Regions from separate parts of the Homo sapiens genome. Here region 1 is linked to region 2. The links come from fine-mapping of genetic effects on gene expression. Tissue or cell type: whole blood. Region 2 holds a variant in brackets; the other region holds the start of a gene. All regions are shown on one strand. Distances are between the middles of the regions.

Region 1 (8,099 bases), 130 kb after region 2:
AACCCGGGAGGCGGAGGTTGCAGTGAGCCGAGATCGCGCCATTGCACTCCAGTGTGAGACTCCCTCTCAAAAAAAAAAAAAAAATGAAATGTGGAGCCACTTCTAGACAGGGTCACACCGCTAAGTTCCCAGTAGGAGAGGCCAGCCAAGGACCAGCCACCTCCTCCCCTCAGCCTCCAGCGTGGGGCCAGGCACCAGACAGATGCTCAGGCAGCCCACTGGGCACCAGACCGTAAGCGCCAGGCTGGAGAGGGTTGCCACGGCGGAACAGGACCTCGAGGCAACTGGCCAGCAACCTCCACCTTGCACCTCTGTCTCCTGGGGCGGATAGGGGTGCCAAGCATACACAGAAACCAAGAGACAGCTGTGTGGAGTCAGGACCTGGGGAAGAGCCAGGGAAGGCACAGGGATACTCAGTGGCCAGCCTGCCTCCCATAGGCCCACCCGTCCCTAGCCCCCAGTCGGCCTGAGTCTTCTGCTCCTGGAGCACAAGGTTCACATTGTGGGGTTGGGCTCTTGACCCAGAATGTGAATTCTGCAGAAGACTCTCCAGAAGAATGCTGACTCCAGTGTAACCTACGGCTCAACAGGGGTACACGTCCAGGGCAGTTCACCTTTGCCTCTTTTTGGCTCTGCAACAGCTCCTGGGAGCCACTCAGTTAAAGAATTAAGGCTATTTCTTCATCCTACCCCTCGGAATTCTGTCCCCATTCCCCACCATGACTCCTTCCCTCAATCACTGGGAGTCTCCCAGGAAAGCAGGATGGGATGCTGGACTAATTTAGAGTAAATCCCCTTTTCATTCATTTCACCAAGCACCAATCACAGGGCAGCCACAGACTGGCCCTGCGGATACAAAAGAACCCCAGGGGTTCTAAGGATGCTAGGAGAGGCATGAAGGGAAGCAACTCCTAACCCACAATGGGCAGACGTGTAAAAGTGTACTGCTGGGGAGAAAACTGAGTGTTCTGGAGTTCTGAGCACTAAACCTTTACCCGAGGGCTGGGAAAGGCTTCTGGGAAAGGGAACCATCTGAGCTGGGCCTGCAAATACGTGAAGAATCATATAGAGGACAAGAACATTCCAGGGCTAGTTGGGTGAGTGTGCAAGGGAAGAAGGGAATGGAAAAAGCCATGTGGGAGAGCAGATGCAGACAGGTCTGGCTGGAGCTGACAGATTTCAAATTATCAATCCTGTCTGTGGAAAGCTCAAAGCATTGCTTAAGGAGACAGCAGCAGTGCCACCAAGTGCCATGGGATAGGGACCCCTCTCCATGAGGGGATGGGAGGTGACCTCAGCGCACTCTGTCTCAACCTGAAGCCTACACCCAGGCTAGCAAGAGAAAGTAGGATCAACCCTGAAACACCCCACATCTTAAAAAGAGAGATGCATTCAGAGTAGATTCTTGAGTTTCAAATTAAATCTGAGATGCTAGTTTAGGGCTTCCCCTACTCCCCAAATCATATGGGGCACACCCCAGTCACCTGGAACTCTCATGGACCCCCTCTGTCCCAGGCTCTGGTAGGATTCTACAGACAACCAAACCCAACTCCCAGTGAGCCCACGGCAATGGCCGTGACTTGCTGGCATCATGCCTCGTTATGCCTGACTCTATGATCTGTTCTGTGAGTGTGGCTAGGAGCTGAGCTTTGCGGGAAACACACTTAATCATTCTGCTCTAAAGGAAGCCACTGGGGTCAACCTCAGGCTCAAAGTACATGGGAAAGCCCCATACCAGACTGGGATGGCTCTTCCCAAGGAGACTGCCAGGCTCTGGAAGCTCCCACACCCTCTCAATAGCAGACCTCTCTAAGACCTGCCACTCTGTTTTGCCTCCCTCACCCACCCTGTGTGGTGGCCCAGAGAATCGGTTCTGCTAGAAAAGCTCTCATTCTGGGGCCAGGCGTGGTGGCTCACACCTGTAATCCTAGCACTTTGGGAGGCGGAGGCGGGTGGATCACCTGAGGTCAGGAGTTCGAGACCAGTCTGGCCAACATGGTGAAACCCCATCTCCACTAAAAATACAAAAAATTAGCTGAGTGTGGTGGCACACGCCTGTAATTCCAGCTACTCAGGAGGCTGAGGCAGAAGACTCGCTTGAACCTGGGAGGTGGAGGTTGCAGTGAGCCATCATGCCATTGCACTCCAGACTGGGCAACAAGAGCAAAACTACGTCTCAAAAAAAAAAAAAGAAAGAGAAAAAGAAAAGCTCTCATTCCAGGATCCAGTCAGTTCCAGACTTGCTCCCGTCCAGACATCAGCTTGGTTCCTTCAGGAGAGCAGCAGGTCTCAGGCCAGCTTGGAATCCTGAACCCAAATGCAACCCCTGGCACTCCCTGTGAGCACCGAGCCAGCCTAACCAGAGAGACAGCACACCCACAGCTGGGCACCAGCCTGCTCAGTCTACCCTTTAAAAGGGTCACAGGCTGGATTCAAGGATCTGACCCTGAGTTCCTTGACACCCATCTGAGACTTTGTCTGCACTGTTCTCTACCTGAAGGGAGTCTCATTGCTGAAGGACTAGCACAAAAGTCACCCAGGAAGTGAAGCCTTCCCACACTTTATCTGAGCTCAGAGTCCATGCCCCTCCTTTGCAAATGGCAAGACCACACGGCAAGCAGATGGATGACAGAGTCCCATGTGTCCATCTGTTCCAGTGGCCTGTGAGTACCTTAAGGGAAGACCCACTGCTATTCCTGGAATATAGCAGGTGCCCACAAAATATTTGATTTGTATGCTCTAAGCTCCCTCAACCTTGGGGGCCAACTTAGAACCCACTTTCTGTTGCCATTTTCCCTGTATCTTAAAAAGAGAGATGCATTCAGTCCACTAGATCCCCCATTCTGACCTCAGTTTCCAACCTGGCATCTGGAATACTGCTCCCTCCTACACCATGCCCCCTCTACCCCACTGTACCACCAGACCCACACCTTCTCCCATTGAACTCACACATAGCTCAGGGGAGCCTAATCTTTAAAAAACAGATCAAGCAGCTTGTAACAAAACCCTTCCAGCCCATCAGGGCAAAGTCTGAAGCCGCCACCTGGAACACCACACCTTCCAACCAGCCCCAGGCATGCACCCCTGTCCCCAGAACACTCTGAACTCTCAACCTTTGTCCCTTACCCTGGGCTCAGATGCTCCCTATCTGGGAGATTCCGCCCAACGCTCTGGTGAACCCATCTGTCCACCCTTCCTCCCACTACGACCACTCAGCTTTCTTTCATTTAGCCCAGTATGGAGCACCTACTGTGTGCAAGGCACCGGGCTACTGAGAAGCAGGTAACATACCTGCCCTTGCACTCTAAATGCAGAGAAGATAAAGAACAAGTACAAACAATGCTCTATATAGTTTATCAGGTGATGATGAGGGCACAAAAAGTGGGATAGATGGTTAGAGAAGGATTCCCTGAGGGGGTGACATTTGGCCCCTGAAAGAAATGGGGAAGTGCCCTGCTGGGAAAAGGGAATTCCAAGTCCGTCTCGAATACCGCCTCCTCCGGGAAGCGCCCGGGTCCCTGGGGTCCTCGCAACGCCGCCCTCCTACCCGGGGGTCTTGGCAGCGAACATGCGTGTCGACCCCAGCCCCCACCGCAGCCGCACACGGTGGGGCCGCCAGACGCGGGCAGGTGGGGCCGGAGCCAGCCAGGAGGGTGGAGAGGAGCTGCGGCCCCCGCGCTGACCCTGACTCGGAGCGTGCAGCTCGCCGACCGGCGCTGGGACTCCGGGCCAACGGGAAGAGGCGCCTACCCGCGGCATTCAGCGACCCCGGCTGACGCTCTCACCCGCGGTCCGGCCGGGACACCCATGCCCCTCTCCACGCCAGCGGGAAAGAGCGAGGGAGGCGCAGCACTCACCCGGTGGCCGCCGCCATGTTCGCCCGGCACCGGCGTCACGTGAAGTGCGGCGTCAGCTGAGCCCCTCCGGGTGCCAATGCATGGGGCGGGGTAAGGGCGGGGCAGGGGGCGGGGCATGGAGTCCTTGACCCACCTCCTCCAGAGCCAAATTCCACGGGACGGGAAGGGGCGGTACCTGGGGAAGGGCGGAGCCCCGATGGGGCGGGGCTCCCGGAGATTGGGGGCCCAAGAGCTCGGCCAGGATAAATGAGCGGGCTGCCGGCTGCAGACAGTAGGTCGGGTTAGCGGGCAGCATCTGCAGCCTTTTCGTGGTGGGAGGGAGGTCCTGAAGCAGAGGACATCTTGATTCTGGTTCAGTCCCCGATCTGGCGTACCAGCCCACCCGGGAGAAGAACACATAGGAATAAAGAAACCACGTGGGAGGAGAGGAGGGAGACTGACCCAGGCTAGGGTCGGGGCAGAGGTGGCGATTTTTGTTTAAGAAGGGAAAGGGCTTGAGCAAAGGCCGTGGGGCAACTGGAGGACTCTAAATGTGCAGCGTCCAGGAGAATGTGCGCGAGAGAGGGGCAGCCTAAGGGAAGCAAGGGCCAGACCCTGCGGGGCCTCCACTGTGGGGCCTATGAGTTAAGTCTGGTAGGATCTTTTCTAGGTTTCCTGGGCTGCAGAATGGAGAAGCTGGAGGAAGGGAAGCCAGGGAGGAGGGCAGGCGAGAAGTGGGCACAGCCGAGAAGGGTTTAGGAGGGAGAGTCTGCCAGAAGGCTTACTCCTCTGCCCCACTGGGCACTGGTACTGGGTGCAGAGTCCTGCAGAGAAGGTGTAGGGACCCTGCAGCAGACGCTGCCCTCCCTACTGCCAACAGAGTCAGGGCATTACAAGCACGGCCCAAATGCGTTGCACATGTGAGCTCATAGAAACCTCACCACAGCCCTATGAGGTCGAGACTATCTTTAAGTCTATTATACAGATGAGGAAACTGAGGCCAGAGAGTGCTCACACAGAGGCTGAGCTCATGAAGCCATACCCTGAGGAGTGACCTCACTGCCCCTGTGAAGGAAGGGGGCCCCACACTGTTGGGGGAGGGCGTCCCTGGCGCCAAGGGTGTACAGATGTGTGTGGTGTACAGATGTGTGTGGACAGGTGGATGGGTGGCCCAGGATAGGCGTGTGGGGCTCCTGACCCCACCCTGCAGCTGTCCCACAGCTGGAAGTGGCTTCTGATCAAAGGTTGTGGGTTGGGGGATGCTTCTTGTTTCTTTATCGAAACAAGGATGTGGGTCACCATGGCCAGGCTGGTGGGAGCCAGGGGCTATGACTGGAGAAGCAGCTTCTGTTTGTCCCCATGAAGCAGGGAGGAGAATAGGCCCCTTAAATAGGAGCAAGGGAGCCAGCCATAAGCAGGGTAGTGAAGGGCACGTGGCACAGTTACCTGGAAGCCCAGTACCATCCCTGCTGTCCTCATCTGTCAGGAGAGAGCTAATGGGGCCACCTCACAGGGCTGCTAGAGGGTTTTACACTCAAACCTGCAGGCACAGCCAGAGACCAAAGCTGCCAGGAGGAATGTGGCCCCTCCAGACAGCCCCTCCCACCTCCCGGTCCCAGATAAGGAAAACGAGAGCTAATGGAAGAGGGGGGGCCTCATCCCTTCTACCCCTTCCCACAACACATGGACAATTTGCAGGGGTCCCTGACCTCCAGGCAAGGTCCAAGAGGAGCTCTCTCCACCCTCTTGCCAGTTTCCAGGAAGAAGAACAGAGGTAAGGATTCACACCCCACTGCCTGGCCTAGGGGCCCCTGAGAACTTCTAACACCCCTAGTTAAGCAGTAGGTCCGCCTTCAGCTTAAGAAACTCAACTCCCTAGTAAGTGGCGCTTTAAAAAATACATAATAACAAAGGGTGAGCAGAATGAGCTTTCCATGCGCCTTCAAGGAAGGAAAACATACCCCCCAGCTCATTCATTGCACCTGCCTCCCACCATTTCTTTTGACATAAAATATGTCAAAATTAAGCCAGCTGCCAGCTCTGAGTGCTTACTAATATGAAAAAGAAGTCAATATCCCAAACACAAAATAATGGAAGGAAGGCACCCACCAACTGAGTGGAGCTCCCTTGTTTGTGGACAGTAATATGGAGGCACTGCCCATGACCCCTGCCCACCCAGGTCCCCTGCCCTCTCCCCTCCCCATCAGGGGCTCCGGCAGGGCTGCCCCTCACCCCTCACCCCTCCCCATCAGAGGCTGTGGCAGGGGCTCCAGAAGCCGCCCAGAATATGGGAGAAGACCATTTAGTTACTTATGCAGGGCAGACCCAGGACGTTGCTGGAGCCAGGAGGCAATTGGGGGAAGATTGATTTTAGAGAGTCGAAGTGGGAGTGTGTAAATCAGCCAAGGCAGCGCGCCAGGCAGCACTCTCATGCGGCATTGCCTCCGAGGTCACAGGCCCTTGTGGCCGAAACAGTCTCCTCTCGTCAAGCCCTGCAGGTGGCTGGTAGATGTCTGCACTCGGTCAGCCTGGTAGCCCGGTAGCCAGCATAGCATTATTCTCCAGAAGGGCCCCCCCAACTCCCGTCAGGCCTTGCAAAAGAAGCTTCACCCTGGGAAGACACCTCTTGTGTCCCGGGACACTGTGTCCAGCCAGGTTTCCCTCCTCCACCCATTCCCCACAATCTAGCCCCCACTCTTGCAACTCCGTGGACGCTGCTGACAGCTGGCTGCCTGGAGACGGCAGGCCCAGATGTGGCGGCCTGCTAGGCTCTGACTCATGAGCCACCCTTGGGCCATGAAGGGGAGGTCCCCGGGAAGAGCCCTGTCCATCTTCTGCTGTGGATTGAGGGCACTGGTCTACCAGAGGCTCTGTGGGACTGCACTGGAGGTAGCCTGGATGCTGGTTCTGCCCTGCACCACCCAGTTGTTGCCCACAGTGCCACTCCAGGACTGGCCATGCTGTGAGGGCCAGGGATCCAGACCCTGCCCTTGCCTAGAGGATCTTTGGTCTGGGGACAGAGGTAGAGGAGCCCTCCACACTGTCCCTGGGGAGTCCACCATCTGGGAGGGCCTCAGAACGGGGCTTCGAGGGTTCTGCTTTTGGCTAATGGGGAGATCCTGGGGGATTCTGAGCTGCAAGCTGCCGATCCAAACCCCTCTCTCCAGCAGGAGCTCAGGAGGATTAGCAGAGAGAACTGAAAAGAGCCAATAAGAGCCAATAAAGCCACTGCACGGGGCCGCCAGCCTCAGATGGTCAAAGCCCTACACAAGATGGCATTTGGGTGTTTTGCGATTGTTTGCTTTTGCTGAGAATAGAAGACTGGATGCAGAAAGCCAGCACCAAATAAACAGAAGAGGAAGAATAGAGGGGACTGTGGGTGTGAGATAGGGGCAGGGTGGCATATGGCAACCCAGTGTCTTCCCAAGTGGGAAAGCAAGGAGCGTGATGGGTGTGGAATGCCCAGGAGACCGTCTCTCTATCCTGGTTCTGGCAGATCCCAGCCTTGGGCCTTTGCAGGGCCTGCAGAGGTAGCCACAGCTCTCCCACTCCAAAGGCCTGTGTGGCCTGCTCCTTCCTCCAGGCCTACACCCCAGCTGTCACCACCATCCATCAACCCCCCTCCTCACAGGAGCCCCCACATCACGTTCTACTCCTCCTCTCCTTTCTCCCCCAGCCCAGCCCACCTGGGCATCTATCTTCCTGTAGAAAAGAGGCAGGCAGAGCTGAGGGGCCTTCCCAAGGAAGCCCCCATCACCGCCTCAGATGAAGTGGTCCCTGCTGAATGCTTTGCTGGGGTCTACGAGGCAATTCAAGATGAGAAATGGAACGGTGGCTTCGGAAAAGCAAATCATTCCAACAGCACCTGAAAACATCGAAGGAAACAAGCTCTTTTTGTGTGTGTGGAAATGGGGAATATATTGTTTCTCACTGTTTCGAAGACTGTTTTCCCATCTTGAAATCACAAGCTGTTTTCTTCCAGAGAGACTTATAAATACATCCAATTATCGACATTCAATATAAGAAATAAAGTTCTGAAATGGTTTTCTTCAGCACATGCAGAGTGAGCCGACCAGGTTGGGCAGGTGATAATTACTTTTATTTCTTACGAGTGGGTATCACCGCGGAGTGGCTAGAAGCTTCACCTTTTATTGCCTTCACCTTTTATTACATTTCCCACGTTGTGCAGGGCTATTCATTGGTAATTTTATTATCCCATATCAAGATCTTGATTAAAAAAAAGGATGAAATTTCTAATTTCAA
Region 2 (8,089 bases):
GCCAGAGAGTTCATAAGCGTTTTACAGTTTTACATACATTCAGAGAACACCATTGCCTAGGTATTCTTTTACTGCAGTATCCCACTCCTCACAGAGCTCTAGGCCTGAAAGCTGTATAGAGGCATCTAGAGAAATGGGGGTTATAGAATTGGACTTGGAAAAGGAATAGGATTGTCAGTGAAACAGTCACGCGTTACACTTTTTGCAGCCCAAACGCCACCTCTTGTCCCTCCCTGTAAAGAAGCTGTTAAAACCAGATGCGCTTCCACATCGCCACCTTTCACTTCCACCTTCTAAATGGAGCTCCGGTACCTGTCTGCTTCACCCACCCCGACCCCCATGCAGAGCCATCCTCTTCGCTTGCCTGGACTTGGTGACTGGCTCCTCGTTGGTGTTCCTGGATGGCAGCGTCACTGCCTGCTCTCCAGAACCATCTGTTGCTCCCCATTGCACCCGGGGTGAGACTCAGTCTCCTTGTGTCGTGGCGTTTCCCCTCATCAACTTAATTTCCCTCCATCCTCCTGTGTCACTCTACTTCGGCTCTAGGGCTTTTCCAAGCTCTTTTCTGCCCTTCCTGGGACAGCTCCTTCTGTCTGGAATGAAGCATCTCCTCTGGCTTTTCACTAACAAGTTCCCTCTCTGTCTCAGCCCCCTGGCTGTCTACGCTAAGCCTATCCTGTTGCTTGCTTCATGGCACTTTGCAGTGTTTGAGACAATATATTTGTTCATGCTGGTTTGAGGTGAAGGCCTCGCAGCAGACTAGAGGCTCTGGAAGGAGGGGTCATGTTTGTATCCTGCACTGGCAGAGTAGATGCTCAATTATGTATTGAATGAATACCTAGACACTGAGTTTCAGAAGGGTTGTAGCACACTATACAGCTTTCTGGCGGGGTCTCTAATGGATTTCTGAAGCTACATGAATTTCTGCAGAGGTTAGAAGAGACAGAGTTAGGTACAAACATGGGGGTAGCGGAGGTAGCTACTGGGGCCCTCTAGACCTGTGCTTCCAAAGAATGCCCTTTGAGACAGGTGGAGACTCACGCCTGTAATCCTAGCACTTTGGGAGGCCAAGGCAGGAGGATTGCTTGAGGCCGGGAGTTCCAAGACCAACTTGGCCAACATAGCAAACTCCTGTCTCTATTTATTAAAAAAAAAATTTTTTTTTTAAAGAGCACCCTTTGACCTACTGGCTCAGGAAAAACGTGACCTCTCTGTTCCTAGTGACCCTCTGAAAAGTGTTTAGATAGAAATAAGAGATTTCTCCTTGCTCCTTTTTGTTCACTTCTTGATAATCAGAGATGTTTATGTGGAACGGGCAGCTTTGGTATGGAATGTCTGAAAGGAAGGAGAAAGATGTATGGTGCACTCAGCTCTGTTTCTCAATTAACAGAACTAAACTGTCCATTTTGAGCTTCATCCTGACTTTGAGTGGTTTTATCCTGAAAGTGGTGGAAATTAAAGCCCTGTACACCAGACTGTGTCTGTCACAGGGGAACAGGGGTGGAGAAGTGCTTGGTGAACTCTTCAACTTTCCTTACACTCAGAAGATACTTTTTTTTTTTTTTTTTTTTTTTTTTTAAGAGACAGGGTCTTGCTCTGTTGCCCAGGCTGGAGCGCAGTGGTGCGATCATAGTTCACTGCAGCCTTGAACTGGGCTCAAGCGATTCTCCCACCTTAGCCTCCAGGGTAGGTGGGACTATAGGCGTGTGCCACCACGCCCAGCTAGTTTTTTATTTTTACTTTTTTTAAGAGACGGGATCTCCCTATGTTGGCCCAGGCTGGTCTTGAACTCCCAGCCTCAGACGATCCTTCAGCCTTGGCCTCCCAAGGCATGAGCCACTGCGCCTGGCTAAAAAGACATAATTGCTACTGCTCAATGTCACAGATGGATAGCTTAGGGAATGTATCTGTACCAGCAGAAAACCTTAAAGAATGGATGTTATAAATCTAAGAAGCAGATAAGATAAATGGTGATTTGGAACTGAAATTGGCTTTTATTTTAATGTGACCACTTTATAAGCACTTCTGTGTTATTACCATAGGAAGAAATCAGTTTGTATTAAACTCTTTGGTGACTTTTTTTTTTTTAAAAAGGCAGTCTTGCTTTGTTGCCCAGGGTGGAGTGCAGTAGCATGATCTTGGCTCACCGCAACCTCTGCCTCCTGGGTTCAAGAGATTCTCCTGCCTCAGCCTCCGGAGTAGCTCGGATTACAGGTGTGTGCCACTACGCCCAGCTAATTTTGGCATTTTTAATAGAGATGAAGTTTTGCCATGTTGGCCAGGCAGGTCTCAAACTCCTGACCTCAAGTGATCAAAGTGCTGGAATTACAGGCGTGAGCCACTGTGCTGGCCTTTGGTGACTTCTGAAAACGTCTCTTAAGCTACAGTTTTCCACCCCCTCATCCTCATGGTTTCATCTGTGGCATCCTTCTCACTTGTCATCTTTCACCTTGGCTTGGGAACTCTTGGATGGGAGCTCTGTGAGAAGGCAAACCTGGAATGGTGTACAGAATTCTAGAAACCAGCTCCAGGGGTGGGCTGTTCTGCGGGACCCTGGGAGAACTGGACAAGCAGAGGCAAGGACAGATACTTCACCAGGCATGGCTGGGCCCTGGCTGGCTTCCTGCCTGGTAGAATTTGTTCAAGGACTACACTTAGGGAGGACAAGCGGTCTCTGCAAATTGGCTGTGGCGCTGCCTTCGTTGGCAGTGTCTCCGACAGATGCTGGCTTTGGCTAGTGTGTCCCACATGAAAAAGAAATCAAGGACAAGAGATCCCTGCAAGTCTCAGGTTTTAAATATCTGCAGCTCAAGCGCTACATGATTCTACCACCTTCAGAAATCTAGTTTGGAGGCAGTGACCGTATCAGAAAGACTTGTGTTAAATCAGTCCGCCCTTTAACTTGCGCAAAGGCATGGCGCGGGGTGACTTGGCCAGTCTGACCTGAGTGCCTAGGATCTTCCTGCAGCGTTGCTTGCCCCACCTCAAACCTCGGGCTGCGCTGGTACTGACAAGCTAAAACCACCTTGCCTAGGAGTACTTCTCACACTTGTCTGTCAGGAGCATCTGGCGGGCGCTTGTGAAATACACAATTCCTGGGCCATTGCCCCTAGACGTTGGGTCAGATGGTCTGTGGGGGTCCCAGGAATCTCTTACCAAATGCCCCAGTGGTTCTGATGCCTGTTAGGCTTGGGAAACCTTGCAGCAAGTGACAGGGTGACACCAGAGCCCCGAGTCCCAGGGGCTCAAAGCAGGCTCCTCGGGGAGGACTCTGCCCTTGTCCCGCCAGGCCAGTCTGAGGCAGAAGCAGCCGTTAGAGGGCCTGTGCTGCCAGCACCATCTTCCTGGAACTGACTTGATACTGACACCAGGTGAGCCATCTTTTCAGGGTGCACGGGGTCCCAAATGCTCATCTGCAAAGGAATAAAGGGGAAGCCACGCACAAAGGACCATTTTAGGAAACCTTTTATTGCAAATGCCATTCTGCATATTGATTTTTGACAGAAAGTATCAGAAATGCTTCTTTCCTGGGAAAAGGAATATAAATGACAGCAAGACACATTTTAGTTGCTACTAAAGAACAGCATTATTTTCAATCATTTTAAGTCGCTCATTTAATAAGCAAGGTAT[A/G]AAACAGATTAAAGGTGGGAGCCTGCAAAAGGGTAATTAAAAAAGTGTTTCCTCCCCGGGAAACAGCACTGTTTGGTCTGATCAAATGCCGAAGCTGGGATCTGATTCTGGGTGCCGTCTCTCGCTACTGGAGTGCTGACCAGCAGGCTGCCCATCACGAAAAGAGGTTGCAAGGCCAGGCCCCCAGGTGCGCTGGGATTTCTGGCTGGCTCTACTTGGGGCCAGAGAAGGGGGTAAAGGCCTTGTCACAGCCTGCCATGCATGCTTCAATCTCTTCCACAGTGCGGGGCACGCAGGTCAGCAGCTCTATGCCGCTGTCAGTCACCACGACGTCCTCCTCGATGCGGACCTGGGTCAAGCCGACAGACACACATTATCATAGAGCAGCCTCATGTGCCAGGCTAGAGGGCCGGGCCCATTCCAGGCCCACCCCACCATGGGATGGGAGCAGCTGACACTCCCTGGGAGACGGGTGGCCTCCGGGCTCCTTCATGGAGCCATCTGCCCATGTCACCTGCTCACCCTGTCTTTGCCAGGTGGATGGGAGCCCCTGGAGCGGGCAGGGGTTTTGCAGGATCTCTGTCTGTTCCTACTGAGGGGTGAGGCTCCATCCTGTGACAGACCACACGAAGGGGCAGGCTAAGCCCACCTCAAGGGAAGATGTCACTAGGGCCCCTGTCTTGGGACTAAGGAGTCTGCAGCTGCAGTGGAGGTGGCAGATGTTCTGGGAGCAAGAATGGGGCCCGTGGGCACTCACCCCGCCAAAACCGCGAAAGCGCTGCAGGACCTCGCGGTTAAGGAAGGAGGCGCGGGCCGGGTCCGCCAGGGCCTCATCCAGGAGGTGGTCGATGAAGTAGATGCCCGGCTCCACGGTGAGCACCATGCCTGGCTGCAGGTGCCGTGCAGTGCGCAGGCTCCGCAGGCCGGGCTCGTCGATGCGCTCCACGCCCTGTGGGGAACAGAGGTGAGGGGCCTGATGAGCAGCTCCAGGGCTCACCGTGGCCTCATCAGGAGAGATGGGCATGTGAGGGCCGGTGCCAGTCTCGTGGGCTCTCTTGACCATTGGGGTCCTCAGCCTAGACTCGCCCCTGCTGTGCTGGGCCATGGGCACCCTGATAAGACCTTCCACCCTGCACATACCCCTGGATCTTGAGTGTCCCTGGCCACACTACCCTAGGGCTTGCTTGAGAAGCCCTGTGGCCACCCATGTGCACACACCCGGGGCAAGCTGCCCAGACAGGCCTGTGGGGCTGGCTGAGGGTTGGGCTGCCCTTAGCCAGGCCCCGCTGCTGGCCAGAGGAGTGGCAGATGCCAAACCACTGAAGCCAAAAAAGCTCTTAAGGCGGCTGTGAAGCCCCTTGGGGCCACAGCTTTCCTTCCAGGCAGCCCAAGTAGAAACTGGCCCCAGAAGTCGTGGTCCCAGCTCCCCTAGGCCGAGGCCCAGATTTTCCGTGTGACTGTCCAGGGAGGACAGGTGCCGTCATCAGGGTGGGTCTGCCAGCCTTAGTGCGCCAGTGCAAATGTGCCGTGTGCGCGTGGCTTGGCAGGTGTGGCTCCCAGAGGAGAGCTCGGGGCCTTACGGCAGGGCCCTGGGAAATAGCCCCCAGCCTTGGAGAACGCCTGAGGGACAGTGGTAGAGCCGCTCCCTGCAGGGGCCCCTGTCTGCGCCCCACACTGCCCCAGTGCACACCCAGCCTGGCCTTGTCCACTCACAGGCACAGCTGAGGGGGCCTCAGCTTGGCTGAGGGCAGCGGGTGCTCTGGGAATTACAGGAGAGCTCCTGCTCGCCTCAGGTCCCCGGGGCACCATCCGGCCGGCGGCCAGGGCCTCTGAGCCAGTGGGCACGAGTATGCTTTCTGGTCAGGGGATGAGCCTGCCCTGCCCGGCTGCACTCCCTCCCCAGGAAGCCCAGCTGCTGGAGCGGGAGCTGTCATTTCTGACTGTTTGGGGGCCAAGAACATCAGACTCCAATTAGCAGTTCACGTAAGGTAACCAGAAACAGGCTGGCTCGGCCTCCACGCTGGGCACGGCCAGAGAGGCTGTGACTGATTCCACGGAGGGCAGGGACAGCCACGCTGACCTGGAGAGAGCAGGCCAGGCGGGAGGCGATGAGGAGACACCACAGCCTGGCTGGTGTGGCCCCGGCCCCACAACACTTGCCTCTGGGCCGCTGACCGGGAGCTGAGGCCGGAGGGCAGGGATGCCCCGTGGCTGAGGAACCGTATGGAGTGACAGTCCCTCTGCGCAGGTGAGAGGTGCATGTGGACCGAGCTGGGGCCTGTCTCCTGCCCAGAAGCTGCTGGGGGTCCCAGGGTCTCTGCTCCAGGACCTTCCCGTCCCTGTCATCCGAAGCCTGTGCTGGGCTCCCCCACCCCACCGCCGCCCATCCCTCTCCTTCATGCTATTCCTGAAGTGTCCGTCCCTGTCTCCACCCACAGCAATCGAAGCCAGGGGCCTGGGGGAAGCAAGGGCCTGCCAACGTCAGGTTTCCTTCCTTCCAGTCACCCCTCCATCCCCATGGGCCCACCCCGGCTGCTCCATGGTACACGGTTGAGGGGCAGGTTTGTTTCCCCAGAGAAACGAACTTTCCTCCCCTCTGAAATCTTGAGGTCCACCACTGAAGTGGGGTGGGGGAGATTAGAAGGGATCCCCAGCGGGCACAGGGCAAGGCCTGCCTCAGCCCAGTGGCGCAGCTGCCCCTTCAGGGTGTTGGCTCTAGGGGCCTGCCCGGGGGACCTGCTGAGAACAGGGCGCAGGCGCCATAAGAGAATGGGAAGGGCTGGGCCGGGTGGAGCGCAGAGCCATGTGGGGAGGGCACGAGCCCCTGTGGCCCAGGAAGCGCAGCCTTCAGGGGTGGGGAGGGGTCCTGCCCTCACCGCGCCCATGCTCGCCTCTGCCTGGGCACAGGGCTTGACAAGGCCTCAACTTTTATTGGGCTCCAAGCAGAGGAGCCCCAGATGTGTCTGCAGGCCTGAAATAAAACAAATGACTTTTATAGGAAAAGCCATATTTTTTCCACAATGTTTATCTGTCAGAAGAATAGACTCTGAGCACAAAGAGGTGCTTACTGGAAAAGATGAAAACAGTTTGCTGCCAATTTTTGCTGGTGGAAAAAAAGCGCTTTGGCGACTAATGAATAACGAACCTCAGCTAACAATGTCTGGAAGGCCCAGCTCTTGGCTCCCTGCACACAATGGGATGAATAGACATTAGGAAATTAAAACTGATTTTGTTTCTCCAAATTTAACTGTTTACACTTGAGGAAAAAAATAATTGAATAATAATGCTTCTCTTAAGCAATTCCCCCCACTGCCCCCACCCTGCCAAAAAATCATTCTTAGTGCTTTCAAAACACCCTGCAGCCAAGAGGCTGAGCCTTGTCTTGGCTAACTGGCTGGGGGGCCCCAGGGCGTGCACGATTGCACAATCAGCCCCCTGCATTGGGCAGCCCGCCAAGGGCAGGGATGGGAGCGCCCCAGCCGCCCAGCCGAGAGGCCGTAGCCACCTGCCCGGTTGGGCCTCCCCAAGCCTCACTTACCCTCTGGGTGGTCCTCTGAGGGCCGGGGAACCTTGTCTGGAGATGGCCCCCAGCCTCCCTTATCTGCCAACGGGCCCCAGAATGCCTGGGGATGAGGAGGCTGCAGGGTCCCAGGTGTGCGGCCCAGGGGCCTGGGAGGAGAGGGCGAACCAGCGGCAGAGCAGGGCTGCTCCGGGTTTGTGAGGGGCCAGGGTGAGTCGCCAGTGGGTGGGGCCTCATCAACTCCCCACGCCCCAGGTCTGAATGAAGCCAGAGGCGGCAGGACGTGAGGGGTGCCACGTAGCTCCATCACGAAGACCTGTCCTTAGCACCACTGTCCTGTGGGGCCCCATGCACCGTATCCTGACTGTGTGCCACCTTCTGGACAGGTGACACCTGGGCCCAGCAGGCAGACAGCACCGCCTCTATGTCCAGTTCTGTGGAATGCTCACAGATGCACCCCTGTCTTGGCCAGGGTCCCGATTCCCCCCTCCTCATGGCCTCCGTATACCACAGGGAGCCATGGGGCCCATCCCTGCCATCCCAATACACGCCTGCTGCCTCCTAGAGTCCCACCCTGCCCTGGGGGTCAGGCTCAGCGGCAGCTGATGGGCAGGCCACTCCGCCTGCCATGTCCACACTGACCTCTGGGTAGCCTCCCACGTCGTGCACGTCAATGCCCAGGAAGTGGCCAAGCCCGTGAGGCATAAACACGGCCCCCAGGTGAGCCTGGACCATGGCGTCCACGCTGCCGCTCAGGATGCCCATGTGGGCCAGCTCCTCCAGGTGGATGCGGTCAGCCAGGCGGTGCATGTCAGGCCACCAGACACCTGTGGGCCAGAGGGAGCTGCCGTGAGCCACAGAGCCCAGCAGCCAACACCGCAGGGCCAGGGGCTGGGAGATGTGAAGCCCTCACACTGGCTGTGGTGGGAGGGCCTGAGG

The links. PIP is the estimated chance that this variant, and not a neighbour inherited with it, causes the effect.
Region 1: it holds the start of PEPD, and the variant in region 2 is fine-mapped to the expression of PEPD in whole blood (TOPMed, PIP 0.93).

What each region holds. Positions count from the first base shown.
Region 1 is chr19:33,517,887-33,525,985 of GRCh38, forward strand. PEPD (peptidase D) reads right to left here and starts at 3,905. Exons shown (of 15, transcript NM_000285.4): 1 at 3,858-3,905. The coding sequence starts at 3,874. LOC105372370 (a long non-coding RNA gene) reads left to right here and starts at 4,048. Exons shown (of 3, transcript XR_935918.3): 1 at 4,048-4,128; 2 at 5,535-5,610; 3 at 7,513-7,891. RefSeq lists enhancers at 3,206-4,169, 4,170-5,132 and a silencer at 3,915-4,114.
Region 2 is chr19:33,383,503-33,391,591 of GRCh38, forward strand. PEPD (peptidase D) reads right to left here. Exons shown (of 15, transcript NM_000285.4): 13 at 7,793-7,977; 14 at 4,388-4,579; 15 at 3,448-3,979. The coding sequence ends at 3,842. Among named protein-coding and RNA genes, the nearest start is that of CEBPG, 14 kb to the left of the region's middle. RefSeq lists an enhancer at 5,935-6,837. The variant A/G (reference allele first, on the strand shown) is at 3,631.